Homo sapiens: one gene and its partners. The protein of the gene in region 2 purifies or fractionates together with the protein of the main gene of each other region. This does not show direct contact. Each region holds a gene or a part of one and is shown on either strand. Other genes may lie near its edges.

Region 1 (7,027 bases), on a different chromosome or scaffold from region 2:
TAGTATCTCTCTGTGGTTTTAATTTGCACTTCCCTAATGATTGGTGATGTTAAGCATCTTTTCATGTCCTTTTTGACCACTGGTATATATTTTTGGAGTTCTATGAATTTATTTTAAGATATGATTTAATAAAAATTTTTGGAGATTTATTTGGTGGAGTTTTTAAGGGTTAAGAAGGCAGCCACCATGACTTTTATTGCATTTTAACTCTTTAATCCTGTAATTGTAAAAACTCTCAACTTGTCTGTTGACCAGGTATCTGTAGTAACTCCAAACTTAGAAATTAAAAAAAAAAATACACCATCTTCTATAATAATAAATGAACCTTTTGGTTCAAATTGCCATGAAAACAGTTCAGAAAGCCAAAGACTATCCTGGCCTGTTTTGATTTTTTTTTCTTTTTAATTAGAAGAAAAGGAGTATATTAAATGGCTGACTGTGCCTGTGTAGTAGATGTCGTTTGTTTTGTAGCTGAGAAGAGCGGGGACCAGAAGAGCCAAACAGGATGAAGAAACAGAAAAGACGTGTTCTGGTTCTTGCTGAGAAGAGCAGGTACCAGAAGAGCCAAAAAATGATGAAGAAACAGAAAAGATGTGTTAGATATCAGTGTAGCAGTTTGATTTCACTAGATGGAGAGTGGCAAAGATCAGTAATAGTGATGGATCATGAGCCCCAGAACTGACAGCAGAGGAGAGGGGACCCAGAATCAAAGTGAAAAAAAGTAATATAGAGCTATGCTCTACAGATTGGCATGGGATGGAGGGTAGAATGAGGGAGTGCAAATCACCAGCTTCATCTCAGTATGTGGTTCGGAATTGAGACAGTTGGCCCTGAGTAATCCAGTAAGATCTACTGTATATCAAATAATGTATGTTAGTCCATACAGCTCAACAGTGAGTGTTTGGAAGGTGTGCACTGTATACAGTTCTATAGGAGTAAGCGAAGTTGTTCAGATCATGTGCCACATAATTTCTATTCATAATGAGTTCAACTGAGTAATTTGAGTGTATAATTTAACAATGTCCAAAACTGTAAAAAATTTTTAAAATATAATCTGTTAAGAAGGAAGGGCATTTTTAATAATCCAGAATGTCCAATTGCCTATAAGTTCAAGGTAACAACGTCTTTTTTTTTTTTTTTTTAACTATTGAATGTTTTGTACACTGTCATAATTTATTAGATACTCTTGGGGGTGCTACGTTGAGCTATTTCAGTTATAAAGCTCATTTAAATCAATTACTTTGCTTTAGTTTAATGAATGAAAAATTGTATGACAATTTTACTTGTAACTCCTTGGCAAATTAAAATTGATTAATTTACTGCAGATGAGATGGCAGATGACTGACTCAAGGTTTCACAGCTAAGTTACAGAGAAATTAGAGACAGAAGTGCTATGCTGCTTTCTCTAATATTGTTTGTTGTCTCCATTTGGAGGAAATGATCTCTTTTGTAATATACGTAATTGAGATAATTTTTGCTTCAGAGAAAATAACACTGTGAAGACCATCAAAGCAAAGCATTTCTTCATATCAGATTATTTATGTTTTACTTGGAAATTGCTAAAGGAGTAGTTTTTATTTCATTTTTAAACTTTTATTCCTTTCCAACTTTTATTTTAGTTCAGGGGGTACATGTGCAGTGACCCGATAGGTAGTTTTTCAATTCTCATCCTCTTCCCAACCTCCACCCTGAAGTAGACCCCATTGTGTATTGTTTCCTTCTTTCTCCATGTATACTTAATGTTTAGCTTTCATGTATAAGTGAGAACATGTGGTATTTGTTTTTTTTTTTTTTTTTTTTTTCTGCATTGATTCACATAGGATAATGTGAAGCTCCATCCATGTTGCTGTAAAGGACATGATTTTATTCTTTTTTATGGCTGTGTGGTGTTCCGTGGTGTATATGTGCCACATTTTCTTTGTTCAGTCCACTGTTGATGGGTATGTAGGTTGATTCCATGTCTTTGCTTTTTTGAATAGTGCTGCGATGGACATATGAGTACATGTTGTCTTTTTATTAGAATGATTTATATTCCTTTGGGTAGGTACCCAGGAATGGGATTGCTGAGTTGAATGGCAGTTCTTTCTGTTTTAGGTTCTTTAGAAATTTCCAAACTGCTTTCCACAGTGGCTGAAATTTACATTCCCCCCACCACTGTATAAGCATTCAGTTTTCTCCACAACCTCATCAGCAGCTGTTATTTTTTGACTTTTTAACAATAGCCCTTCCAACTGTTGTGAGATGGTTCTTATTTTGGTTTTGATTTGCATTTCTCTAAAGCTCAGTGATGTTGAGCATTTTTTCATATGTTTGTTGTCCATGTGTATATCTTGTTTTGAGAATTGTCTGTTCATGTCCTTTGCCCATTTTTTATGGGTTTTTTTGCTTTTTAATTTGTTTAAGTTCCTTATAGATCCTGGCTATGGGACCTTTGTAGGATGCATAGTTTGCGAATTTTTTTCTCCCATTCTGTAGGTTGTCTGTTTACTGTGTTGATAGTTTCTTTTGCTGTGTAGAGGCTCTTTAGTTTAATTAGGTCTTTCTTTTCAATTTTTGTTTTTGTTGCAGTTGCTTTTGGAGTCTTCATATGAAATCTTTGCCAGGGCCTAGATTCAGAATGGTATTGCCTAGATTTTCTTTTAGAGTTTTTATAGTTTAAGGCTTTACATGTAAGTCTTTAATCCATCTTGAATGGATTTTTGTGTATGGTAAAAGGAAAGGGTTCAGTTTCAATCTTCTGCATATGGCTAGGCAGTTATCCCAGCACTCTTTATTGAATAGGGAGTCCTTTTCCCATTACTTATTGTTGACTTTGTTAAAGATCAGATGGTTTTAGGTGTGTGGCTTTATTTTTGGGTTCTCTATTCTGTTCCATTGTTTTATGTGTCTGTTTTTTTTTTTTTTCCAGTACCATGCTGTTTTGGTTACTGTAGCCTGGTAGTATAGTTTGAAGTCAGATAGTGTGATACCTCTGGCTTTTTTCTTTTTGCTTAGGATGGTTTTGGGTATTCAGGCTATTTTTCAGTTCCATATGAATGTTAGATATTTTTTCTAGTTCTGTGAAAAATGTCATTGGTAGCTTGATAGGAGTAGCATTGAATCTGTAAATTACTTTGAGCAGCATGGCCATTTAAATAATATTGATTCTTCCTATCCATGAGTAAGGAATATCTTTCCATTTGTGTTGTTTCCGATTTCTTCAGCAACATTTTGTAATTCTCATCGTAGAGCTCTTTCACCTCCCTGTTGAGCTGTATGCCTAGGTATTTTATTTCTTTTGTGGCTATTGTGAATGGGATTGCATTCTTGATTTGGCTCTCAGCTTGGACGTTATTGCTGAAATGCTACTGATTTTTTTGACATTGATTTAGTATCCTGAAACTTTGCAGAAGTTGTTTATCAGATCTAGGAACCATTGGGTAGAGAGCATGGGGTTTTATAAGTGTAGAATCATATCATCTGTGAACAGAGATAGTATGACTTCCTTTTAATTTGGATGCCTTTCATTTGTTTCTCTTGCCTAATTGCTTTGGCTGAAATTTCCAGTACTATGTTGAATAGTTGTGGTGAGAGTGGGCATGCTTGTCTTGTTCCGGTTTTCAAGGGAAATGTCTCTAGCTTTTGCCTATTTAGTATGATGTTTGCTGTGGATTTGTCATAACTGGCTCTTTTTATTTAAGGTATGTTCCTTCAATGTCTAGTTTGTTGAAAATTTTTAACACATGTTAAATTTTATCAAAAGCCTTTTCTGCACCTATTGAGATGATCATATGGTTTTTGTTTTTAGGTTTGTTTATGTGTTGAATCACATTTACTGATTTACATATGTTGACCCAACCTTGTATAACAGGAATAAAGCCATTTTGATCATGGTAGATTAGGTTTTTGATGTGCTGCTGGTTTTGGTGTGCTAGTGTTTGTTGAGGATTTTTACATCTATATTCATCAGGGATATTGGTCTAAAGTTTTCTTTTTTCGTTGTGTTTCTACAAAGTTATGGTATCAGAATGATGCTAGCTTCATAGAATGATTTGACGAGGAGTCCCTTCTCATTTTTTGGAATAGTTTAGTAGGGTTGGTTTCAGCTCTTCTTTATATGTTGGGTGGAATTTGGCTGTCAATCTATCTTTTCCAGGACTTCTTCTGGGTGTAGGCTTTTTATTACTGATCAATTTTGAAATTCACTATTGGTCTGTTCAGGGTTTCAATTTCCTTCTGATTCAATCTTGGGAGGTTGTATGTTTTGAGGAACTTATCCATTTTTCTCTAAGATTTCTAGTTTGTGTAGGTAGAGGTGTTCCTAATAGTCTCTGAGAGTTTTTTTTTTTTATTTCTGTGGGGTCAGTTGTAATGTTCACTTTGTCATTTCTGATTGTGTTTATTTGGACTTCTTTCCTTTTTTCTTTATTTGTCTAGCTAGTGGTCTGTCAATCTTATTTATTCTTTCAGAGAACGACGTTTTGGTTTCATTGACCTTTTGTATAGTTTTTCATGTCTTAGTTTTGTTCAGTCAGCTCTGATTTTGGTTTTTTCTTCTGCTAGCTTTGGGGTTAGTTTACTTTTTTTTTTTTTGGTTGCTCTAGGTGTGATTTTAGGTTGTTAATTTGAGATCTTTCTAACTACTTGATGTAGGTGTTTAGTGCTATATACTTTCCTTTGAAGACTGCTTTAGCTCTGTCTCAGAGAATCTGGTATGTCATTTCTTCCTTTTCATTAGTTTCAAAAAATTTATTGAATTCTGTCTTAATTTCATTGTTTACCCAAAGTCATTCAGGAACAGATTGTTTAATTTCCACATAATTATATGATTTTGAGAGATCTATTCTTGTACTGTGGTTAAGAATGTGGTATAATTTCAGTTTTTTTTTTTTTTTTTTGAATCTGTTGAGAATTCCTTTATGGCTGAGTGTGTGGTCAATATTACAGTATGTGTCATGTGCAGATAAGAAGAATGTATATTCTGTTGTAGTTGAGTGCAGTGTTCTGTAGATATCTGTTAGGGCCATTTGGTCAAATGTCAAGTTTAGGTCCTGAATATCTTTGTTAGTTTTGTGCCTTGATGGTCTGTCTAGTACTGTCAGTGGGTGTCAAGGTGAGGTCTTCCACTATTATCGTGTGGTTATCTAAGTCTCTTTGTAGGTCTCTAAGAACTTATTTTATGAATCTGGGTGCTCCAATGTTGGATGCATGTATATTTAGGGTAGTTAAAGTTTTCATGTTGAATTGAACCCTTTATCATTATTTAATGCCCTTCTTAGTCCTTTTTGATTATTGTTGCTTTCAAGTCTGTTTTGTCTCAAATTAAAAGAGCAATCTGTCTCTTTTTTGTTTTCTGTTTGCTTGATAGATTTTTCTCTATCCCTTACTCTGAGTCTGTGGGTGTCATTGCATGTGAGAGGGGTCTGTTGAAGATAGTATGTAGTTAGGTCATGTTTCTTTATTCAAATTGCCACTCTGTGTCTCTTAAGTGGTGTAGTTAGTCCATTTACATTCAGAGTCAGTATTGATATGTGAACATTTGATCCTGTTATGCTGTTATCTGCTTGTTATGTAGACTTAATTTTGTAGTTGCTTTATGGTGTCAATGGTCTGTGTACTTAAGTGTGTTTGTTTTTGTGGTGGCCAGTAATGGCCTTTCAATTTCATATTTAGTGCTTCCGTAAGGACCTCTTATAAGGCAGGTCTGGTGGTAGTGAATTCCCTTAGTATTTGCTTATCTGAAAAGGATTTTATTTCTCTTTTACTTATGAAGCAAAGTTTGGCTAGATATGAAATTCTTGGTTAGAATTTCCTTTCTTTAAGAATGCTGAATAAAGGTCCCCAGTCTTTTCTGGCTTGTAGGGTTTCTGCTGAAAGGTCAGCTGTTAGCCTGATGGGGTTCCCTTTGTAGGTGACCTCTCCCTTCTTTTTAGCTCCCTTTAAGATTTTTTCTTTCACTTTGACCATGGAGAATCTGAAGACTATTTGTCTTCAGCATGGTTGTCTTGAATAGCATCTTACAGGGGTTCTCTGCAGTTTCTGAATTTGAATGTCTACCTCCCCAGTGAGGTTAGGGAAATTTTCATAATTTTTAATTATGTTTTCTAAGTTGCTTTCTCATGTCTCTCTCTTTCAGGGATGCCAATGTGTCATATGTTTGGTCTGTTTACATAATCCCATGTTTTTTGGAGATTTTGTTCATTCTTTTTATTCGTTTGCCTTTATTTTTGTCTGATTGAGTTCATTCGAAGAATTGGTCTTTGAACTTTGAGATTCTTTCCTCAGTTTTGTCTATTCTTTTCTCAGCACTTCTGATTGTATTATGAAATTCTTTTAGTTTTTCATCTCTATCAGATCAGTTTGGTTCCTTCTTAAAATGACTATTTCATCTTTAAGTTCTTGTATTATTTTATTGGATTCCTTAGATTCCTTGGATTGGGTTTCAGCTTTCTCCTGAATCTTGATGATTCTCCTTGCCATCCAGATTCTGAATTCTATGTCTATAATTTCAGCCTGGTTAAGAACCATTCTTTGGCAGGTGGTGCAGTCATTTGGAGGTAGGAAGACACTCTGACTTTTTTTTTTTTTTTTTACTTTGGAATTATTAATATTATTTCCTATGATATAACATAGTTAAAGCTAATTTTCAGGAGGAAAGTTTCATTTTGTAATTATTCATTATTTACACTATGACGGGGAGGGCTTTAGTATTCTTTTTTTTTTCCTGGTTATTCCTTTTTTTAAAAAATTATTTTAGGTTTGGGGATACGTGTGTAGGTTTGCTACATAGATAACATGTGTCACAGGGTTTGTTGTACATATTACTACATCACCCAGGTATCAAGCTCAGTACCCAATAGTCATCTTTTCTGCTAATTGCCCTCCTCCTCACCTCCCTCTCTTAAGTAGACCCCAGTGTCTGTTGTTCCTTTCTTTATGTTCATGAGTTCTCATCATTTGGCTCCCACTTACAAGTGAGAACATGCAGTCAGTATTTGTTTTTCAGTTACTGTGTTAGTTTGCTAAGGATGATAGCCTTCAGCTTCAT
Region 2 (7,421 bases):
TGCTGAAAGTGACAAAAATATTTTTAGTAACTGAAGGTAAAATATTCAAAATTACATATATTCAAATCTCTTCAAGCAAGTGAACTGAATACTATTATTTTAGGGAAGAATTTCGCATCAGAAATAAAAGCAAAACACTACAAATATAAGCATCAAGTTAATCAAAATTATAAAATAAAGCAGAAACTGTCTTATTAACTGCTGAGTTATCAGCAGTTGGCACAATGCCATCTGCAATACTCAATAAAGTTATTAAATGTTACCATTACTACAAATAAACATGTGGGCAACAATCAGAGTTCTTTAATCTTCATATTATTCGTGTGAAATCATTAATTGTATTAAAAAATTAAACCATCAACTATAACCAATTAATAGGAATTAAGATTTTGCACCTCCTTACTAAAGTAAACTGTTTAATTCTAACTCCCTACTCAGTTACCTCCATCCAACAATAATTACTGAATGCTCAGCAGGTGCAATTTGTTTTAGAGCTAGTCTGAAGTCAAAATTTGTTCCAATTTTTTCTTTGAAGACAAATATGGCTTTGAAAAGCAGATCAAGTGAATAAAGCACTTTAGAGTCTAGTTTAATTTTTAAGTCTTTAATGTTTAAAATGTAAAATATTCTGTTTCATAAGTTAGTTGATAAGAATTTTGGGTACCTAAAATTCTTTTTTGTCATAGAAGCAACAGTGATCTTATAAATAATATAGAATAGATTTTCAATATTTTTAGATACGTATACCAATAAAATTATCTATTATTCTTTCATATATTTATTCAGGAATCAAAGCATCTGTGATAAGAAAATAATCTCAGAGAATCACCCAATATTTATACATAAATCCCACTCCACCTCCCATCTCCACAAAACCTTCAAATACAAACACTTCTTAGCTATCATTCTCCTTACTAGTTAATACCCATGACACTTCAGAGATTGTCATTTATTTACCTTCTGCAATCTCTCTGAATTTTGCTTCAGCATCCGGGCTCTTATTTTTGTCAGGGTGGTACTTCATGGCCAACTTGTGAAAGGCCTTCTTGATTTGGCGCTCTGATGCCGATTTTGGCACACCTAAGATATCATAGTAGCTTTTTGAGGCCAGAATTAATTCTGTTATCATTAAAATGCAGATTGCAAAGATGAAAATTGACTGGGGAGTAGCCATTTCTAATATCCTAAAACAGAAAAGAAAAAAAAATGTTATGGATGGAGCTAATCTTAAAACGTTTTTCTTTTAAAAGAAATCCAACACAAGGTAAACCTAATGCAGTATCAAAATAGTAAGCATACAGTATCTATTACCTGTCCACATGTAATTTCACTTTTAGTTTTATAACTCTCAAACTGGCTTAACCTTATTGAGAACAAAAATAATTCTTGGCTTTGTCTGTCTACTAATACTCTGGCCATACACAGAGGAGATAGAAAATTATCAATAACTGACTTTTAACCAGTTTATATTGAAGATTCATCATATGCAAGCATTGTAAGAAAAAAAAAGAAAACCAAATAATATAAGATCCCAACTTTCCTTTCAAGACTTCATATCCTGAAAGTAATAATGTATTTAACTTCACAGAAAAAAAAAACATTAAAAAAAAAAGGTGGCGCACCAAGGTAAATAGCCCAGTATATCTAAATTAGTATTATTAATCTCGCTCCAAAAATTCAGCTTTCATTTCAGCAGGTGAGCCAAGGACTGCAAATAGAGAATCTTAATATCACAATACTAATACTGACAATACAATAGAATGTTGTCTTTTTCCCAAATGTAAGATCCCAAATGTTTAACCAGGAAGCATGGCTAAATATTGTTTAAAACTCATGATGAACAGAATTTAAGATTTCTGCTAAAGCTGCCAGAAAAATGAACTTTGATAGTTTGTACTGTGGTTAAGGCAGATTCTTACTTTCACAAACTCAGTAGTTAAAATATTTCTTTTACCTTTAAACCATTAAAGAAATGTTAACTTAGAATTCTTGACAATATGTATTCAATGACTTGAGATTCAAAACGAAGGGATGGATCCTGTTTTTTGAATACGGGACCACCAGAGTCCTTAGTAACCTATAATGCCATAATAAGGCTGACGAAAAACACTACGGTTTGTGGAAATTGCCTGGCTTCCTCTCCAGCGGCCTTTCCTGAGAGTAATTAGCAGGCAGGTAGATTACTTATTTCCAGAGAGTTACTCGTAGTCACGGGTACCAAGAATCAAGAACCACTTCTCGGTTTAAGGAACACAACAGTGTGTCCCATGGACGCTGCGTCAACTGCAGGTTGCTCCCTAGTCAAAGGGCGGATCTAAAACTGACAGGGAGGCGCCTCACTGGTTCAGCAGACGTTATTCCACGGTCTCAAGGTGGACATCTAATGATTTTTTTTTAGCAGACTAGTTTTGTATTGTACAGACTTCTCATCCCCAAGACGGCCCCGCCAGCCAGCAGCCCGTGCCTTATTCCCCAGCCTCGGTGGGCGGCTGGGCTAGACCCTCCAACCTTCACCTAAAGGCGACTGGCACTTTCCCTGCCCGCCCAGGCCCCGCCGCAGAAGCTGCCCGAGACCCGGGCTCTAATCCGGCGCCCGTGAAAGCCGGCGCCACAACCCAAAACACGATTCTGTGATGCGGCTGTCTCCGTTCTTCCATTCTCTCGGCCAAAAACATGCAGCCCATTGTCCCTGCGGCGACCGTGGCGGACACCGAGGCCAAGTCAGCTCACAAAGACAGGCCTGGGCTACGGGGACCCTCCGAACTCCCCTCCCCACGACCCCGGCCTCGTCCCTCACCTGCACCCTCCGACTACTGCTGCTCCTCCACAGAGCTGAGGCGCTGGCGACCCTGACGATCGGCTCGGGTCGGCAGCTTGGGCCCGGCCCCTCACCGCGGCCTCCCGGAGCTGGCACGCACCCTAATCTCGGTCGTACACCGACCTAGCGCTCCTCCTTCCCCGCCGGCGCCCAGTCCCCTCTCAGCCAGCTCCTCACAGGCAGGAGGTAGCCGCTGGCGCCACCACCTCAGAAGACCTACACGAAACGCTTCCCCATTGGCTTCTGCCTCCCCACGTGATCCCGGCGCCCTACGCGCACGTGGAAAACTGTTGTTGCTGCTAGGGCTGTGCGCCACTTCCGGCTTCAACCCCCGAAAAGGCGGTGCTTAAACCGGAGGAGGCGGAAGTGAGTCGACAGACGAGGCGGCTTTCCCGGCAGAATGCTAGCGCAGGCGCAGGGGCTCGAGAGGCCTGGACCTGTGGCGCATCCTCAGTGAGGAGGGCCGCCCTGCATCCGTCGCCGGCCCCGGTCTCCAGGGGCCTCACCCGAGTCATGCCCCGCTATTGCGCAGCGATTTGTTGTAAGAACCGCCGGGGACGAAACAATAAAGACCGGAAGCTGAGTTTTTATCCGTAAGTTGTTTCTGGAGCAGAAGCGTCAGCCTCGCCGTGAGGCCTTGGACCTGTGGCCTTTGGGCTTGGGTGTCTCCTGTCCGCTCTGCCAGTGAGTCCTCAGCTCTCCGTACGTGGCCCGTCGCCCGCGGCAAGACGGAGGGAAGGCGCTAGTTCAGTTTAGCTAGCAATGCCCTTCTTGCGCGAGGACTGCTGGCTGGTGGCGAGGCCCAGGAGCCTGTTTGGGTGTTAACAGTTAAAACAGTAAAGTTTGCGCGGGCTTCTGTGGTTTTCAGTCTTTTCCCCACTTCACGTGATCTCATTTCATTGAACAACATTAACCACCATTTAAGATACGTGAAACCTGCGAAGTGGAAAGGTGCACGCAAAGTTAATTTACACCCCCCGCGAGGTAGGTCGCATAGGTATAATTTCATCCCACTTTTCTCCTGAGGAAACTGAGGCCCGGAATGATTAGGTAACCGACCTTGAAAGTTTAGTGTCAGAGCCAGAATTATAAACTAGTCTTCTGCTTAGGGCTGTAGATACTCTGCGGAGAACAAGGTTTTATTCTGTTACTCTGAATTACTAGAGCCACGATATATTTCCATCAAACTACTGAAGCACTGATTTTTATTCAGAAGTACAGACAAGCAGTGTCGTATAATAATTAGGGGTCCAGGCTTCAATGCTAGATCCTGGTTCCACTATTCTGTAGCTTAATGACCTCTTGGAAAGTATTTAAGCTTTGGTGTCTCACATATCTCATCTGTAACATGGAGATGTTAATAGTACTCACATGATTAATAACACATGAAAAGCAACATATTTAAAATACTGCATTTCCATTTTTTCTTGTATTTAAAAACAATTCATTTAGATCTAACCTGGTTCAGATTTTCAGCAGTTGTTTTGTGCTCATTTTACTTTAGACCTGAAGGACTTATTCATTAATGATTCGGCTGCTTTCCAGTATTTTAATTAATGGAAAAAAAATTGATAACCCCACCAGGCGCGGTGGCTCACGCCTGTAATCCCAGCACTTTGGGAGGCTGAGGCGGGCAGATCACCTGAGGTCGGCAGTCTGAGACCAGCCTGACCAACATGGAGAAACCCCGTCTGTACTAAAAATACAAAATTAGCTGCGCGTGGCGGCGCATGCCTGTGATCTCAGCTGCTCGGGAGGCTGAGGCAGGTGAATCGCTTGAACCTGGGAGGTGGAGGTTGAGGTGAGCCGAGATCACACCATTGCACCACAGCCTGAGCAACAAGAGCGAAACTCCGTCTCAAAAGAAAAAAAAACTGATAACCCCAAGTAATTCACAATCCATGGCAATATTTCCAGGATTGTCTCCCTTGAAGCCCAGCCTCAAGATGCAAAGAGATGTTTGGGGGAGGAAAACAATCTAATCCACTTTCAGTTTATAGGGAAATACTACTGTACTAATGGCTCTATCTCTGAGAATGTTTGTAGCAAAAGATCATGTTGAACTTGATTTAACCCCGTATTTCCCAGATTTATTTGGCCTTTGATATTGGAGATGGGGTATAACCCCACACTGAAATTTTTAACTAAACTTTGTGGACCTTACAGTAACTTTTTAGGAAGGAAAAAATAATGCAAGTGAATTGTAAAGATTTTTTTCACTGAAAATGTGAATTTAGTAAAAGTTGTATTATTTCTAGGGTTTTTAAAAAATTTTCTTGTGTAATCCACAAAATAAAAATTGAATTAGTTTTATTCTCCAGTAGCGTCAAACTTGAATTGAATTTGCTCATGTTAACACTACAGCAAACTGTAGTTTAAATGTATATGAATTTGGGAATTCAGTTAATATAGTGTCCAGTTTGTACTGTGATTATCTTATGCCTTTTGGGGAATTACATAAGACAATGAAACAAAATTATCAAATGAATTGAACCAATATAAAGACATAATTTATTCAGGAAACATGATCAAGATTTCTTAGAGATTTACCTATTGAAGCAATACAATCCAGTAAACAATAAGGATATTCACAAAGTTTTTTTTAATGAGTTGATAACTTAGCATATAGGTACAATGGAAATAATTTGCAAACAGCATCCATATACATGAATTTACAGTAAAAAGCATTATTGTAAAAGGCCTATTCTCATTTCAGTTGTAACAAAAGAAATGAATTTACCAATGGCCAGAAGAAGTCAGGTCCTCTAAAAGAAAATTTGTCTGCCTTTAAAATTCCTTTTCTGGTTATGCTTGTCATACTTACAACCTAATATTTGTAAAGTTAAAATATTTTTAAAACATGATTAATATTGCTTCTGTGGTTGGAATTTCCAAAGGTAGTTTATCTGATTTTTTTCCGTATGAGGATATCAGGATTAAAAGTTATATCTTACAGAGTACCCAGACTTTCCATGGCATCTTAAAAAGTTACCAGAATTTAGGGGGAAAAAATGATGCTACTACAAAACATAAGCTAAATGATTGGGATTGCGGGAAGGGAGTGTATAACAGCTACATTTTATATGAGAAACCTTATATTGTTACTATTTTTAAAAACAGGAAATTATGTGGTGTCTTGGACTCTGTTCTTGGAAAAGTACCAAATGGAATATAAACCATTTTCAAATATTGTTTTGTATACCTTGACCCAAACCTTTTTAGATTGATAGGAAAAATTTTCTATCAAATTCTGCCATACACTGTAATGTTAGCACCAACTTTAAATCCAGGTTATTGTCAGGTACAGGAACAAAATGTATACAGCGCTGTCTTGCCATTTGTATTTGATTTGTTTCATATAAAATATCTGAGACTGTCCCTTTTAACATGTTCCATTCTTTTCTTCTATCAGTTTCTCCTTCAGAACTTGAAATTTGGAGTTCCCAGTTCATTGGTTATAGAAGTGTAGTACTATTAGACTAGATTACTTATAGATAGAATTAAAGATGATGCTAGTAAAGAGAATATTTTCAGTACTTTTTCAGCTAAATCATTTGTTTGAAATAACATCTTATTTTTTAAATATTAAATAAGATTGTAAAGCTTAATACTGCCTTGAATTATAGACAACAAGCCATTTGACATGTGGTGGTATTATGAAATACATTTGAATAGGAATTTATAATTTATACAAACCTTTTTTCTAGTTCTAGGCAAACTGTACAGCAATATAAAAATGGAACATAATCCATAGAAAATACAAATAGATTTTGTCCTTTATAGGAACACATATATTTTACTTGAAGGGACTCTGAATTATGTTCAGCTCTTATCAGATAAGAGCCTTGGCTACATGTCTTACATCTTAGGCCTCTTACTGCAGAGATGATAATGGTACTAGTTGTCATGAAGATGCTCTTATTTGGTAGGGATGGTTGCCTTCCTCTTGTAGTACTTACTTGATGCATAGGTTACCCAGATATATAGGGTGGGAATTTGGCAAAATTGTAAAAATATAGCAAAGTTTTTCCTTTTTTCTTCTTTTTTTTTTAAATTCCAGATTTCCTCTACATGACAAAGAAAGACTGGAAAAGTGGTTAAAGAATATGAAGCGAGATTCATGGGTTCCCAGTAAATACCAGTTTCTATGTAGTGACCATTTTACTCCTGACTCTCTTGACATCAGATGGGGTATTCGATATTTAAAACAAACTGCAGTTCCAACAATATTTTCTTTGCCTGAAGACAATCAGGTATTGCAGTATGGGAGAGGGGTAATGCTGAGCAGAGTGGCAGATTTCAGGGTGGCAGGTGATCAGGTGGGAGAGTAAGAGGGAACTATAACTTGGGTAAACAGATACTTGGAAAAAAGGGAGCACTAATTTGTGCTTTTACTAAAAGTGATAATTAAAAAAAATTAAACTCATGAAGCACAGCTTAAGAGAAGCAAGAGATATACATTATTAAGTTATTAACACAAGTTCATGAGTTTTATTTTTTATACTTTTTTTGTTTGAGACAAGGTCTCATTCTGTCACCCTGGCTAGAGTGCAGTGGTGCGATCTCAGCTCACTGCAACCTCTGCCTCCTGGGTTCAAGCCAT
Region 3 (7,027 bases), on a different chromosome or scaffold from region 2:
GGGGTGTAAAGAACCAGGATTTTTCTCACTCGAGTGGAAAAAGTAAAGTGCCCGGCAGAGTAGGGCAGGCAGCCCCTTCCAGAGAACCCTTCCCGTGCTCCTCCAGAGGCCACACCAAACTTCGAATTACATCTGTTGGCAAAGGATCATGCCCTGCTCAAAACAAACACGTGATGTGATGTGATGTTGTATGGAGAACCGGTGATGGTGGGGAAGGTGATCAAGAAAACACGCTAGTCGGGCTGCCCAGCCCACCGGTGGCCGAGTGCCAGGGCCCACTCTGCCAGCCAAGCCATTTCCACCCGAGGCCCCTCCTGCCCCACGGCCAGCTGACAGGGCCTCCCAGGCCGCTGCCTCTTTTGATCCAAGCTGGCACCTGGCCCCTCTCACACGCAGCCCTAAGGGGACACTCAGGTGCCACCAGCCCCTTGGTGATAGGCCCACCTTGGAGCTTCCCACTGGCTTGTCCAAGCCATTAGCAGCCACCTGTGGGGTTGTTTCCACACTTCCAGTAAGAGTGACCCACCCCCAAGATGCCCAAGACACAGGCTGGTGCACCGTGAAGACTGATTTGAGAGTCGAAGACATGGGCTTTAGTCCCGGCCCCATCATCTGCCCTCTTCGGCCCCGTTGTCCTCCTGGGTGGTCCCTGAGGCCCAAGAGCTCTGCGCCTGAGCACCACTTGGGGAGCGGAAGTGACTCAGTGGTGAGGTGGCTGGAAGCGGGCCCACCTTGTGGCCTCTTTGCCCCGAGAGACTTCTGCTTGACTGCGGTGGCCAGGGCAGGGGGCAGCCCTCTGTTCCTCAGGCGTGGGAGAAACAACCCCTCCTTCCAGAATCAGAGAGCAGTGCCCACTTCATTTAGGCAAAGGGTGGAAGTGGGGAGAGGAGGGGCTGTGAAAACACAGCGATGCAATCCCAGGAGGAATCCGCCCTGCACCGCTCCTCTGGCCGAGAGGAGAGGATCTCCACTCATGAGCGGCCAGGCTGGGGGCCCCAGAAAGCCTGACCTCATTCCCCAGGGGCACGGGAAGGAGCCAGGGCTAGAAGAAAAGGAGCTGATGTGGTGAAGGTGAAAAGAGCCACCAGACAGCCTAACTGAGGGGTCCAGGGAGCCCAGCGGCTCAGATGTTGGAGTTCGGCTCCAAATCCTCAAACATCGGCCCCACTCCCACCCCCAGCCAAAACAGTCACTTTGCCCTCTAGCTGGGGGTAAGCCTAATAACTGAAGACTCAGGTCCCAAGGCTCATCGAGAGCGAGGAAAAAGCCTTCTGTTTCTCAGTAGGCTAGGTTGATGGATAGCTTGGCAGTTTCCGTGAAGGACAGGCAGCTGTTCTGGGTGTTAGAATTGATGTACAGGGTGGCATAGCTGGGCATGGCTCTCATACATGCACTGCCCATGTTTGATCATGTATAATTTAGTGATTGTGTGTGTGTGTGTGTGTGTGTGTGTGTGTGTAGAGCACTGAGTCCCAAGGTCAGGCCCAGCCCTGTCATAGGCCAGCTTTATCACTGGGATGAAGTCCCTGGTACTCCCTGGGGTCAGTCCCCTCATCCAGGTGGACCAGATGATCCCATGGGATGGCATCAGAGTGTAAGTTTCATGACAGTGGGGTCTCTGTCTGTTTCTGGCACTTAGGGGGTGTCCACTAAGTCTGTTCAGTGTGCACATCTGTACTGTACCATGGTATCGTCAGAACCTCACGCAGGCATTCCGTAAACATGCAGAAAGATGCCTGTATTCAACAAACAGCGATGGGGCGACTGCCAGGTGCCCGGCTCTGTATGTCTATATATGTCTAAGGACTGAGGAAGCTACAAAGAGCTCAGATGCTGCCCTTTCTCTCAGGGAGCTTACTCTTTACTAGGACACATAGGATTTGTGCCCAAGTCACTCAAAAAAAGACTAACAGTGATAAGTGTCTTAAGGGAGTTCCCAGCGAGAGAGTTTGGGGGTGGGCTGGGCTCTTTTCCTGGCTTTCCTTCTTTGCTGCTGTTCTTCGAAATGCGTCCTCGGTTTCAGCCACAGACAGGCTCCTGGTTCTTGCTGGCACCCGTTCCCTGAACAATCTCTCCCAGCCTCGAAGATGTGACATGTGGGAGCTGGCAAATCTGACGGCACCAGATTTGCCTCTCTGGGCTTCACAGCTGTATTTCCATCGGTGTCCTCAGTGTCTCCAGGTGGAGACCTGCAGGCACCTTCTTCATGGTTCAGATGAGACACCTTCCCCTTCACCTGAACCCAAGCTAAAAAATGGGTTATTCTGAGTTGTTGCCCCAGCCCACACTTTTCAGTCAGCCAACATGTATGGAGTTCCTGTTTTTAGGGAGGAAGCACGCTAGTTGGAAGGCAAGCCTGGGTGCTTTCTGCCCTCCCAGCAGAAATAAGACGTGCACACCTGAGACGAGAACCGAATCATCCAGGCAGATGCCACAAAAGAACAAATGCACGGCATATACGGGAGATTGGATGGGAATCCCGGGAGAGAAAGGGAGCATTTCAAGTTGGGCAGTTCAGAAAGGCTTCAGGGAGGAGCTGAAGGGTGGGGAGGAGTTGGATGGGGTCAGTGAAGAGGGCAGGAAGGAGTGCTGGGAAAAGTTGGACAGCAGGTCCTGGGGGAAGAGTGTTTGGTGGTGGGGGAGAGAGATGGCCTGCAGTTGAGGGAGCCCTAAGCCAGAAAGGACCTGAGTGCTCCATAAAGGACACGCGGTTGTGTCTGGTTGACATTGGAGAGACCTGGGAGGGTTTGTCAGGAGAAGGCCTATTTGCCACTTGCCCCTGGAGATATTCTCTCGTGGCCTTAGCCCATGTTGAGAAACCTCTACTTTTAGAGAGTGGGAGGAAGAAAATGAGCTTGTAAAGGAGCCAAGAGGAGCAGTCCAGGACACAGGCAGAGAACCATGATGGTAATGTCATGGAAATTGAGAGGAGAAAGTTCCAAGGGGGAGGAAATGACCCACCGCGTTGACTGCTGATCAGCAGAGTTAGCTCAGGATTCATGGATCAGAGAAGGCCAGGTTGCAAGGGCCAGAGGGGCTGAGTGGATCAGAAGCAAAGGCGCAGGAGGAGCTGTGTCCTTAGAGTGGGAGGCAGGGCCCAGCTCAAAGGATTTCAAGGCAGGGATGGCCCGTGCTCATTGGGAGGGGGAGGGACAGAAGAGGCATGGGGGGACTTGGGGACAGAGCGGTGGAATTGAGGGAGACTTGCTTTGAGAAGAAAGAATCTCTTTATCGGGAGGCAAGGGAAGGAGAAAAGATGGTTACAGACATAGACTCTGCATTACGAGCAGCTGCATTTAACCTTTTTATAACACATTTATTATTTTTTTAAAAATCAAAAAATTCCAAAAAGGAAAAACATTCACTCACGTGAACTCCTGCCCTGTAGAGATAATAAATGACAAAATGTAGATGAACATTCTTCAGAAATCATTCTGTGTATGTTTGCACAGATTTTTTTCATGTAGATAAGATTACACTATCCATGTTATTTTTATTTTTATTTTATTTTACTTTGAGACATAGTCTCACTCTGTGCCCAGGCTGGAGTGCAGTGGTACCATTGTAGGTTACTGCAGCCTTGACCTCCTGGGCTCAAGGATCCTCCCAGCCTCCCAAGTAGCTGGGACTATAAGCAGGTGCCACCATGCCCAGCTAATTTTTGTATTATTTGTAGAGATGAAGTCTCGCTATGTTGCCCAGGCTGGTCTCAAGCTCCCGACCTCAAGCAATCCTCCCTCCTCAGCCTCCCGATTACTTAGCGTTTTTGTTCTTAGTGCTGGTTTTTAGTTGTTGCTTTTGTTTTTGTTTGTTTGTTTCTTTGCTTGAGACAGAGTCTTGCTCTGTTGCCCAAGCTGGAGGGTAGTGGCACTATCATGGCTCACTGCAGCCTCAACCTCTTAGGCTCAAGCAATTGTCCTACCTCAGCCTCCCAAGTAACTGGGACTACAGATGCATGCCACCATGCCCAGCTAATTTTTGTATTTTTTGTAGAGATGAGGTTTCACCCTGTTCCCCAGGCTGATCTCAAACTCTTGGGCTCAAGTGATCCTCCTGCCTTAGCCTCCCAAAATGCTGGGATTACAGGCGTGAGCCACTGCACCCAGCTTGCAGTATTTTTAAAAAATGGTTTCATAACATCCCATAGTAAGACTCTACGAGCATTTATGTAACCAATCCCCTGGAGATGGGCATTTTAGCTATTTGCATTTTCCCTCAGATTTATCATAGCATGCAGTGATCACCTTTACACATACACCTTGGCCTAATTGTGTAATTATTCTCTTAACATGAAGTTCCTAGAAGGAGGATTACTGAGTCAAAGGGCACTCGCCCTTGCAGTATTGACAGAGGGTGCCAGGCTACTCAGAATGCACGAGAAGGCCTCTTTCCCCATCCCTCCCCCAGACTGGGTTTGAAGTGTAGGCATCTGGACAGAGTTAGTGGATGATAAAGAAAGAAGTTGGAACCTCATGGTCTTGATCCTTTCAGAAAAGGAGGGGGTGAGCTCATCTTTGGGGAATGAGGTGGGCTGACCTGAGGAGGAACCCAGGAATGGGAAGTGAGGATCCAGATGGCAGGACTTGGCTGAAGCCAAATGCATGCCCCCCTCTGACACTCTCCTGCAGCTCCAGGCTTCTCTAGTGCAATTCGAAGAAAGCAGGCTGAGGATGGAAGGGACCATGGCCAGGAGAGAGAACTACAGGCTCCATGGGGCAGAACTCAACCCTTGGGGACTGGGCTGGGCTTGGAGGTCAGGGCGAATGAGAACTTGGAGGAAGGAGAGCGAGGAAAGGCTGAGTGCATTGGGGATGAAGAAGGCAAGGGGCTTGAGATCAAGCAGATGGAACAGCAATAAGCCTTAAGCTCCAGAGGGCAGGCAGGATGTGTAGAGATGAGACAGTAAATCCCATGTCCAGAGCCCTGAGTTTCAACAGAAAAGCTGCTTCCATTCAAGTTGATGGCAGGAGACAGAATGAAGAATTCATCCAATCCAGGTGATGTCATTGTCCAGAACAGTGTTCCCTAAAGTCAGAGTCCCTCTGCCTCTGAACATAGGTCCCAGAATTAAAAGATACATTTATTTTTCAAGATCTGCAGGAAGTTCCATGACCAAATAAGTCTGAGAAACGTGGAGTTAAACACAGATTTAAATGGGCTTATTATTTTTTTTGGCAGGACTTTTCAAAATGCTTACTATGTGAATGTGAATCTCTAAGATGGCGATAGAGTATGCCATGTTTTCCACACTTACTTGATCAAATAATCCTTTTTCACAAAGAATAATTTGGGACTAGTGTCCCATAGGATATGTTTTGAAACACTGATTTCTTGTAAGTTGGAAATTGGTCCTGGGAGTGATGGGGGTTGGGAGATGGCAATAAATGGCAGCATTAATTGGAATAGGATAGAAAAATAATCCTAATAAAAGTGGCTGCTACTACTATTTATTAAGCATTTACGATGTACCAGGTACTTTTCATATACGTCTCATTGGATTTTCACAGCAGCTCATTGAAGCGGACGATCTCCCCACCATTTACGCATAAGGAACATGAAACTCAGAGGAGGGAAGTGGGGTGCCCATGCGAGACAGGGTAGGATTTGCAGGATCAGGGGTGACAACGGGGATCAAGAGAACTGGTGATTCCTGGCCAGGCATGGTGGCTCATGCCAGTAATCCCAGCACTTTGGGAGACCCAGGGAGGAGGATCACTTCAGGCCAGGAATTTGAGACCAGCCTGGGCAACATAGTGAGATCTTGTCTCTACAAAAAATAAGCAAGATTAGCTGGGTGTGATGGCACACACCTGTAGCCTCAGCTACTTAGGAGGCTGAGGTGGGAGGATCGTTTGAACCCGGGAGGTCTAGGCGGCACTGAGCCATGATCGCACCACAGCACTCCAGCCTGGCCAATAGAGCAAGACCTTGTCTATAAAAAGAAACAAAAAAAGAAAAGAAAAGAAAGCCAGTGATTCCCACCCCTCCCATCCCTCTGAATTCATGGGGTTCAGGGGAGTCGGGGGGGTTGGTGCTGTGGACAGAGAGGAGATCAGTGTGTAAGTAATGGGGGGAGTCTGTTGCATTGAGTGAGTAGCCTAGGTTCTTGTCTCAACTAGAGGCAGCACCAGCCTGCGAGCAGGTATTTAGAAATGGGTGGGCATTCGGGGTTGTCACAATGACCAGGGATTGCTATTGGCCTTTAGCGGGCAAGGCCAGGATGCTGAATGTCTGTGCAGAGTGGGCCGTGCTCATCTAATGAAGAATTGCACCACCTGGAATAGGGTCCAAGTTAGAAAAGTTGAGGGCAAGAAAGTTGTTTAGGATAAAGGGGATTTAGGATAAAGCAGGGATTTACCCACAACCTCTGTGGTTACCAAGAACAGGGTGGGAGGCAGCCAAAGGGATTCAGGTGGAGGTAGCAGGAACCGGGAGGGAAGCCTGTCTCAGAGCAGCAGATGTGGCTTTAGGGATGCAGGAGCTTGAGGATGGGGACCAAAAAAGGGGCGAGTGCTGGAGGAGAGAAACTGGCAGAGCCACGGAAGCAGAAAAGGACAACTTGTTGAGCAAGAAGATTTGAAGGGAAAGGACCTGTGTCTTGAGACCTGAGCGGGCAGGCGGATTCCCAACCGATTACAGACAAACCCACAAAGGAAGCCTGTGGAGAGGGGGTAGTGGCGGAAGGGCTCTAATGAAAACAATTTTGCAACCTTACTTATAGCGTTCTCCAACCTTAAACTAATAGCTATTCTGCACTTTAAATATAGCATTGGCTCCAGAGAAGACTCTGAAATCTTTATTTTTACCGATCCAATTGGCTGTTTTGAAAACCCACTCTGTGAACCCTGCAGAAGATAATTATCAAAATATGTTCCTTGAAGTGCCCAAAGAAAGACCTTTTATTCAGTTCCTCGAATCTCTCCCCCTTGTTGACTCAGATGGAAGAATGCAGTCCCAGAAAGGCGAAAGAGGGAACCAAGGACACATTTTTGGTCAACCAAAAGAAAGCCGGCATTGGTGACCACAG
Region 4 (7,027 bases), on a different chromosome or scaffold from region 2:
CTCCTATAAGTGAATGTATAAATTATTCACTTTCTTACTCCTGACATTAGATATGGATATTTTAAACCCCCTTCTACCACTTCCTCCAACATGTTCTAAAGAATACAGATTAAAAATATTTTTTAAACCCAGAATTATGTCAAATACGGGGGAAAGGCATAGAAAACAAATTTGCATACTATGTTTAGGAACAAGCTTCTTAGGTCAAAATGTCAATAGTGGGAGTTGCATATCATTACTGATACATCTTGCTGCAGTGAAATAAATGCTTTTGAAAAATCCTGTTTTTTGAGCCATGCCAAAATATGTTTGGCAGAACTGAGCTTGTTTTGGTCAATGCTTTCAAATTAACAGGACTCTTAAAAAGACCAGATGTTTCTGCTTGAACCGTAACTGATTTCTTGTACCCCTAGTGCGTATTTGTACTCAAACTCTCTTGCAGTTTTCCCCAAAGAAGTAAACAACTTGGTTGGAAGTTCAACCTAGTTAACATATAGTTAAACTCTTCATCCCAATAGAAATGCAGAACTCAGTGTTCTGAAAATCCCAGGATTGTTTTATTTCTAAACAGCATCTTAGAGAAAGTCCTTGTTCTTCATTTTTTTTTCCTTCCTCATTATTATTATTAGAGTAAATCTTATAATTTCTTGGATGTTTCTACTGGAGTTGATAAGACAAAAGAAATAAATCTAATAAACCATTTCATAGTTATGCAAACTTTCTATTTATTAAACATTTTTTGTTACTATAGCCACTTGGAGCATGGAGCATTTTTAAACAGACCCATATCAGCATCTCAGCTAGGGTTGGACTTTTATGTTGTCCACAAAATGCAATGTAAATTGGCATTTTAAAACCCACTTTCAAATAGGACGCAGATGCAAGCACTGAATTTTCATTTGATTAATGATTAAACATTTTGGTTTTTAGTTAGATATAATTTTGCCAATTTAATTATAGGGTAATGTCTGTAATAAAAACAAATATGTAATCTGATAAAGGAAGTCATATTGAGCAACTTGAAATGCTTAAAACAGCAATACTACAGTGCAGTCCACTTCTCTTAGCCTATGTGGAAACACTAACTCATTAAAATCCTATCAGTCTGATTCTTCAACTTGCTTCTCAGAGACCTGAGCAAAAGAATTTTGGTGACGGCAGGGAAATTAGATTCTACTGTGTGCTATATACCTTGGACCCCTGGAAGGTTTTACCCACCTCTGGGTGTTGTAAGTAGCCTGGCTTTGTACAACTGGGAAGACTTGCTTTTCCTGATTTCCATACTGTAATGTACAAAGGTTAGAAGACGAGCTCCCTCTTGAAGCCCAAGTTTTCCCAAGTTGAGACAAATTCTCTACTCTTGGTTACTACAGTTGTTGAACATTGAAAATAAATTCTCCTAAAATCCACATGTCTACACACCAATAAGTAAATTAGGCAGAATACATACTCACTTTTTCATCAACTAGGTGTGCAGCAGGCAGATAAAAATGGGTGTGTATTTATGCTGTAGTCTCCGACAAAAGAGTATGCTTGCTTAGAATTAGGTAAAATGTCCGTTTACCTGAAATAATTGCCACTTTTGGGTAGCCAGATGGTGAGCGCACCCGTGTTCAAAGTAGGGTACCTTAATTTAGATCCAGATGGTTGAATTGAAAGGGAAATATAGCCAAGATAAAGAACATTTTGTTCACTTTCAAAAGGGAGACTGTTTTTCTTTGACAAACTTTAATAGGGTCTATAACATGCCAAAGTGAGACGACATTAAAAATATGAGGTCCTTTTCTATAAAGGATTGTTTAGAGAGAAACTATAGTCTCCAAGTAAAATGGGAAAATAATAGTGGTAGTTCTCAAAGAGAATTGGGACCATCCTTTTGCAAAAATCTTGGGGAGAGAATGGAGGATTTTATCTCTGGGTAGGCATTTGCTCTACTGTGGTATTTGTGTGATCTGATGCCTTGTAATTTACTCAGAATGAATTAATACTCATGGTATTTAATACAAACAAGAAATTCACTACATTATTTTTAGATCGAAAGCAACTTCATTTCTCCCATTCACTTCGGTAAGAAGATAGCTTAACATGAGCAAGTAGGAGTATATTGCTTTTTGTCCCTCTATAGAGGACTGTGAACTGAAAAAAATCTTTGAGAACCATTTGTTTCTGTAAAAACTTTTTTCTGTGATTCCTTAATGGACTTAGCTCATTGTTTTTGTGTCAGGCTCACATAACCATATGGCAAAACTGAGTTCAGTGCTGGATTTTGAACACAATTCAAAATGCCACCAGTAAACCGTATCTAGACAATGTTTACTAAAAAAAAAGCTCTGACCATGTAATAATGACTCACTCAGGGAGAAAATCTATGCAATTGGTGTTTGTCTTTCTGTGTTTCCTGTAGTGCCATTTGATTTGATCACCCTGGATAATAATTAAATATACAGTTTTTTCAAATTAATTGACATAAAATTGTGTATATTTATCTTGTATAATCTAATGTTTTGAAGTATGCATACATTTGGAACAAATGTAGTTAATTAACAAATGCATCATCTCATATAGCTATTTTTGTGGTGAGAATGTTTAACATCTACTCTCAGCAGTTTTCAAGAATATAATATATTGTCATTAATTATAGTCACCTTGCTTTACAATAAGTCCCTTGAACTTATTCCTTTTTTCTAAGTAATTATATATCCTTTGACCAGTAACTCCTCAACTCCATTCTTCCCCTAACCTCTTATTATCTGGTAAACATTATTCTACTCTCTAATTCAGTGAGGTCAACTTTTTTAGTTTCCACATATTACTGAGATCATGCAATATTTGTCTTTTTGTGCCTGGCTTATTCACTTACATGAAGTCTTCCAGTTCATCCATGTTGTCTCAAATGACAGGATTTCCTTCTGTTTATGGCTGAATGGTATTTCATTAGTGTATGTATACATTTTCTTTATCCATCCATTCATTGATGAACTCTTAGGTTGGTTCTGTATCTCGGCTACTGTGAATAATGCTGCAATAAACATGTTGCAGATATCTCCTCAACATGATGATTTCTTTTTCTTTGGATATATAATCCACCAGTAGTGGGATTGCCAGATCATATGGTAGTTCTATTTTTAATTTTTTGATGAACCTCCATACTGTTTTCCATAATGGCTGTACTAATTTATAGTGTACTCATTTTCACCAACAGTGTACAAGGGTTCTTTTTGCTGCACATCCTTGCTAACAGTTGTTATCTTTTGTCTATTTGATAATAGCCATTCTTACAGGTGTGAGTTGACATCTCACTGTGGTTGCATTTCCCTGATGATAAGTCATGTTGAACATTTTTCATATACCGGTTGGCCATTTGTATGTCTTATTTTGAGAAATTTTCATTCAGGTCTTTTGCCCACTTTAAAAAATCAGATTTTGTTTTTTCTTGCTATTGAGTTGTTTGATTTCATTATATGTTTTGGTCATTAATCACTTATCAGATGTACAGACTGCGAATATTTTCTCCCATTCTATAGGTTGTCTTTTTACTTTACTGTTTATTGTCTTTGCTGTGCAGAAACATTTTAGTTTGATGCAATCCCGTTTGTCTATTTTTTGCTTTTGTTGCCTGTGCAGTTGCCTTTGTTTTTATTTATTCAATGCAACTCCAAACTGAGCCTATCTGCTTCGGATCCCTTTCAAATAAAGATGGACCTGATACTGGCTTTCCCAGTATTTGTTTGGTTTGCACAACATGTTTGTTTATTTAAACTGATTGTTGCCACTGTGTATGTGGATGGGCTTGAGCAAACAATGCAGGACATGTTTTAGGTGTGCTTGAGGGTGGTGACATTTGGTCAATATGATTTACAAAAATGGGACTTACCTCTGTAAGTATGACTTCAAGGAGTGATACAAAAACAGTGAGGAAGAAATAATTTACCTTTAAGGCATAAATGCTTTACGGTCTTTAAGGAGGGCATCCCTCCTTCACCCCCAATGCTCATCCTCCCAACCCCTAGCAATCATAATCTTCATCATCACCATCATCATCATCATCATTTCTCAATTCTTTGCATGTTCTTTACTGCCTTCCAGATTTACATTACTGGCCAGCTTCTACCAGGGTTTTTCAAAGTTCATGCCATCCTACTTTCTACTACAGGAGACTGCATACTTTCTCCCACAGATAGAATTTTACTAGGCAGAATTTTGGAAAATTCAAACGTGAAAAATACTTCCTGCTTTTTCCAGTTTCCTGGACAACCTAAAATGATGCACAAACAGGCACAGCTGTATGGTGGTGGTGGCAGTGTGAGGGTAGAATAAGATTGGCAGTGTTGCATGGAGCTGAATAAGGGTGAAGAACCCAGGCTCACCCTTCCTGCCTTCTTTGCCTCCAAGCTTCTGAATGCCTGGGTGGACCTGACATTTATAGAACTGTGGCCCCAGTTGTACAGGGACAGGGTGAATTAATTCCTCCCAGTGCACACCTATGTGTGTGCTGCAGGATGAAGTTTTGTTTTAATCATTCACATCTTTCCTCATGACTACACAACTAAAAAAAGAAAAATCAGAGGATAGACAAAGAAAGTAGTTCAAAAACTGTGGTTGTTGGTTACTTTTTACATCTTTTAAAAATAGATTATTTTTAAAAATCTTATATCTTTTAAAAAATAGTTCACTTTTGTTGTGTCGCTGGATGGAAAAGTGTGTGTGTATGTGTTTAGTGTGTTCATTCTCTTCCTCCTATGCAGGGACTGTGGAACCAGACTGCTTGGCCTCATATCCTGACTCTGCCACTTATTAGCTTTAAGACCTTGGCCAGATTTCCTAATTGCTGTGTGTCTAGTGTCCTCATCTGGAAAGTGGAGATAATGATATTCTATTGTACAGGGTTGTTGTGATGATTACATCAGTAATAAAGCACTTAGAACAGTGTCTGATAATTGGTAAGCACATCTGTGGTTATTAAATATAATTTTATTATTCCATGGCTGGAGATCTGCTACTTGGGCTAGTACCAGTTTGTGTAGGACCAACGTTCTTGCTTTGGGGTTTCCCCTTGCTGGCAAAACAGTGGGGAAATGGTCACCGTGGACATCCCTTTGGCTGCTGTTTGTTTTTACCACCTAAGCAGAGTTCAAAAGACAGGGAATGGGAAAAGAAGGTGGGAAGGAAGAAGAGGAGCCTGGTCACCAGAAAAAAAAGAAGGAAAAGAAAGGTTGTGGTATTTCAGCCAGAGAATCTCCCAGCTTGGATCAAATACTGGGAGATGGAGAGGGTTGAGGGAGCAGAAAGACTGAGGGAAACAAGAGAAACACACAAGTCTCTGATTACAGCACTGCTGTCTATTAGCAGTGAGAATAGCAGGAACCAGATAGCAGGAACCAGAGACTGAAGAGTCAGAAGGGTACCAGTACAGCAAGAAGAAAAGCCTTAAGTACCAAGGGAAAGGCGTCTCAATCATTAGATATTGTTCCTAAGACTTTATGTGGTTTTGACAACAGCAGTACTTTATAATACTTCCGTAATATTTTGCCTCTTTCCAATAAAAAAACGTGAATCTCAGACACGAATTTTATTTATTTTTATGAAAACCTAATATTATGACCTGGGAAAGTCATTTTAATGCATTCATAATACCCTTCAACAATGATGATCAAGTACGCAGTACTTATTTTTGGTAAGCATATTTAGTACATAAATGGTGAAACAATTATGAATATTATGCTCTGTTTTTATAACACGATTATTCACATATGCACCACTTCCTACATACATATTGCTGGCATTATTGCCTTATGTTTTTAGTTTACTCCAATGGTTATTTAAAAAAAATAGACTACACACTTGCTTATAGTATTGAATATTCAGCAGGAGTACTTCTCTTCTGAAATAGCAGAGGTTTAATGACTCATTGAAGTGCATAAAAACACACAGTCTAAACAACGACCCATTTTGCCTTAAAGAATTTAGTCATCGAGTAACAATTTGCATTTTGGATTAACAATTTTAAATGGGACACGTGTAACTTCCATGACCTTGTAACAGTCCGCTTACTGCAATCAGTTGAATAGTAACTAGATGTTCCATTGAAACTTTTCTTTAGGTCTTGGGAGTTTTTATTACCAATCTTAAACTACTGCAATATTAGAGAAATTGCAGTTGCTATAGAAGTAGGTTCAAAATCATTTTGCACTGTGTTATGCAGAGATGTGGCCAAAAAGAAAACCTTTCAAGTCATCCATGCTGTTTGTGAGATTCTCTTGGTTTTGGCGGATTCCACAGTGAAATGCCATGAATCAATCTGAATACTAACAGTGTTATGCAAATGTTTGTTTCCTCTGCATGTCTTACCTTTATGAAAAGGCAAACTGAAAAATAATGGAGCAGAAATTGTTTTGTATCACATACTGTAATTTGTTGGCAATATCAACCAACATTAATGCATTACTTCTGCTGAATGTTATCATAATGACTTGATACAAGTAGCTTGCCTAGTGAACTTCCGCAGAAATAAGAAGAAATCAATTCTCTATATCCTTCAGAGGCAACATGGAGCTTTAAGCCTTCCTTCTTAGCTCAACCAAAATGTCAAATAGACAAGTTGTTAAGAAAATAAAGTAATTTATTTTAGATAGAAGAGAATTAAAATACATGTATGCTATTCACATTTTTCCAGTTATGCTAAAATGACATTCTACGAATCACACTCCCAGAATGTCACTTTTGAAAGTGGAATTTTTTATGGTAATAGACAGATTCATTAAAAGATAAAAATGATTTTGTTTAGGAAAGCAGGAGAATAACAGACAACAAAATACTTGTCCCCATTACCTTCTGCCTTTTGCTGTTTTGTTTTACTTTTTGCTATATTTACATATATTTTTTCATGTCCACATTATAATTGAAATATTTCGATTTTTAATTAATTTTTTATATTTATTATACTTGGTATTCTGCTTACCACCTCAAACTCACCACAAATTCACTCCAAACTTGTTATTTTTTTCTCAAAATCACCGTTGCTATGGGA

The links.
Region 1: the proteins of DNAJB9 (region 2) and ARB2A purify together in Homo sapiens (co-immunoprecipitation; 2 studies listed by BioGRID and IntAct, with this or other methods). This does not show direct contact.
Region 3: the proteins of DNAJB9 (region 2) and SCARA3 purify together in Homo sapiens (affinity purification with mass spectrometry; 3 studies listed by BioGRID and IntAct, with this or other methods). This does not show direct contact.
Region 4: the proteins of DNAJB9 (region 2) and TRHDE purify together in Homo sapiens (affinity purification with mass spectrometry; 2 studies listed by BioGRID and IntAct, with this or other methods). This does not show direct contact.

What each region holds. Positions count from the first base shown.
Region 1 is NC_000005.10:94,101,646-94,108,672, reverse strand, and holds part of ARB2A (cotranscriptional regulator ARB2A isoform 1 precursor), read left to right. Parts: intron 1-7,027. UniProt on the Homo sapiens protein: Plays a role in the regulation of alternative splicing, by interacting with AGO2 and CHD7. Seems to be required for stabilizing protein-protein interactions at the chromatin-spliceosome interface. May have hydrolase activity.
Region 2 is NC_000007.14:108,565,480-108,572,900, reverse strand, and holds the start of DNAJB9 (dnaJ homolog subfamily B member 9 precursor), read right to left. Parts: upstream 3,028-7,421; 5' UTR 2,798-3,027; intron 1,185-2,797; 5' UTR 1,175-1,184; coding exon 958-1,174; intron 3-957; coding exon 1-2. Other genes in the region: THAP5 (THAP domain-containing protein 5), read left to right, coding at 3,332-3,411, 6,879-7,071. UniProt on the Homo sapiens protein: Co-chaperone for Hsp70 protein HSPA5/BiP that acts as a key repressor of the ERN1/IRE1-mediated unfolded protein response (UPR).
Region 3 is NC_000008.11:27,636,889-27,643,915, forward strand, and holds part of SCARA3 (scavenger receptor class A member 3), read left to right. Parts: intron 1-7,027. UniProt on the Homo sapiens protein: Seems to protect cells by scavenging oxidative molecules or harmful products of oxidation.
Region 4 is NC_000012.12:72,275,367-72,282,393, forward strand, and holds part of TRHDE (thyrotropin-releasing hormone-degrading ectoenzyme), read left to right. Parts: intron 1-7,027. UniProt on the Homo sapiens protein: Specific inactivation of TRH after its release.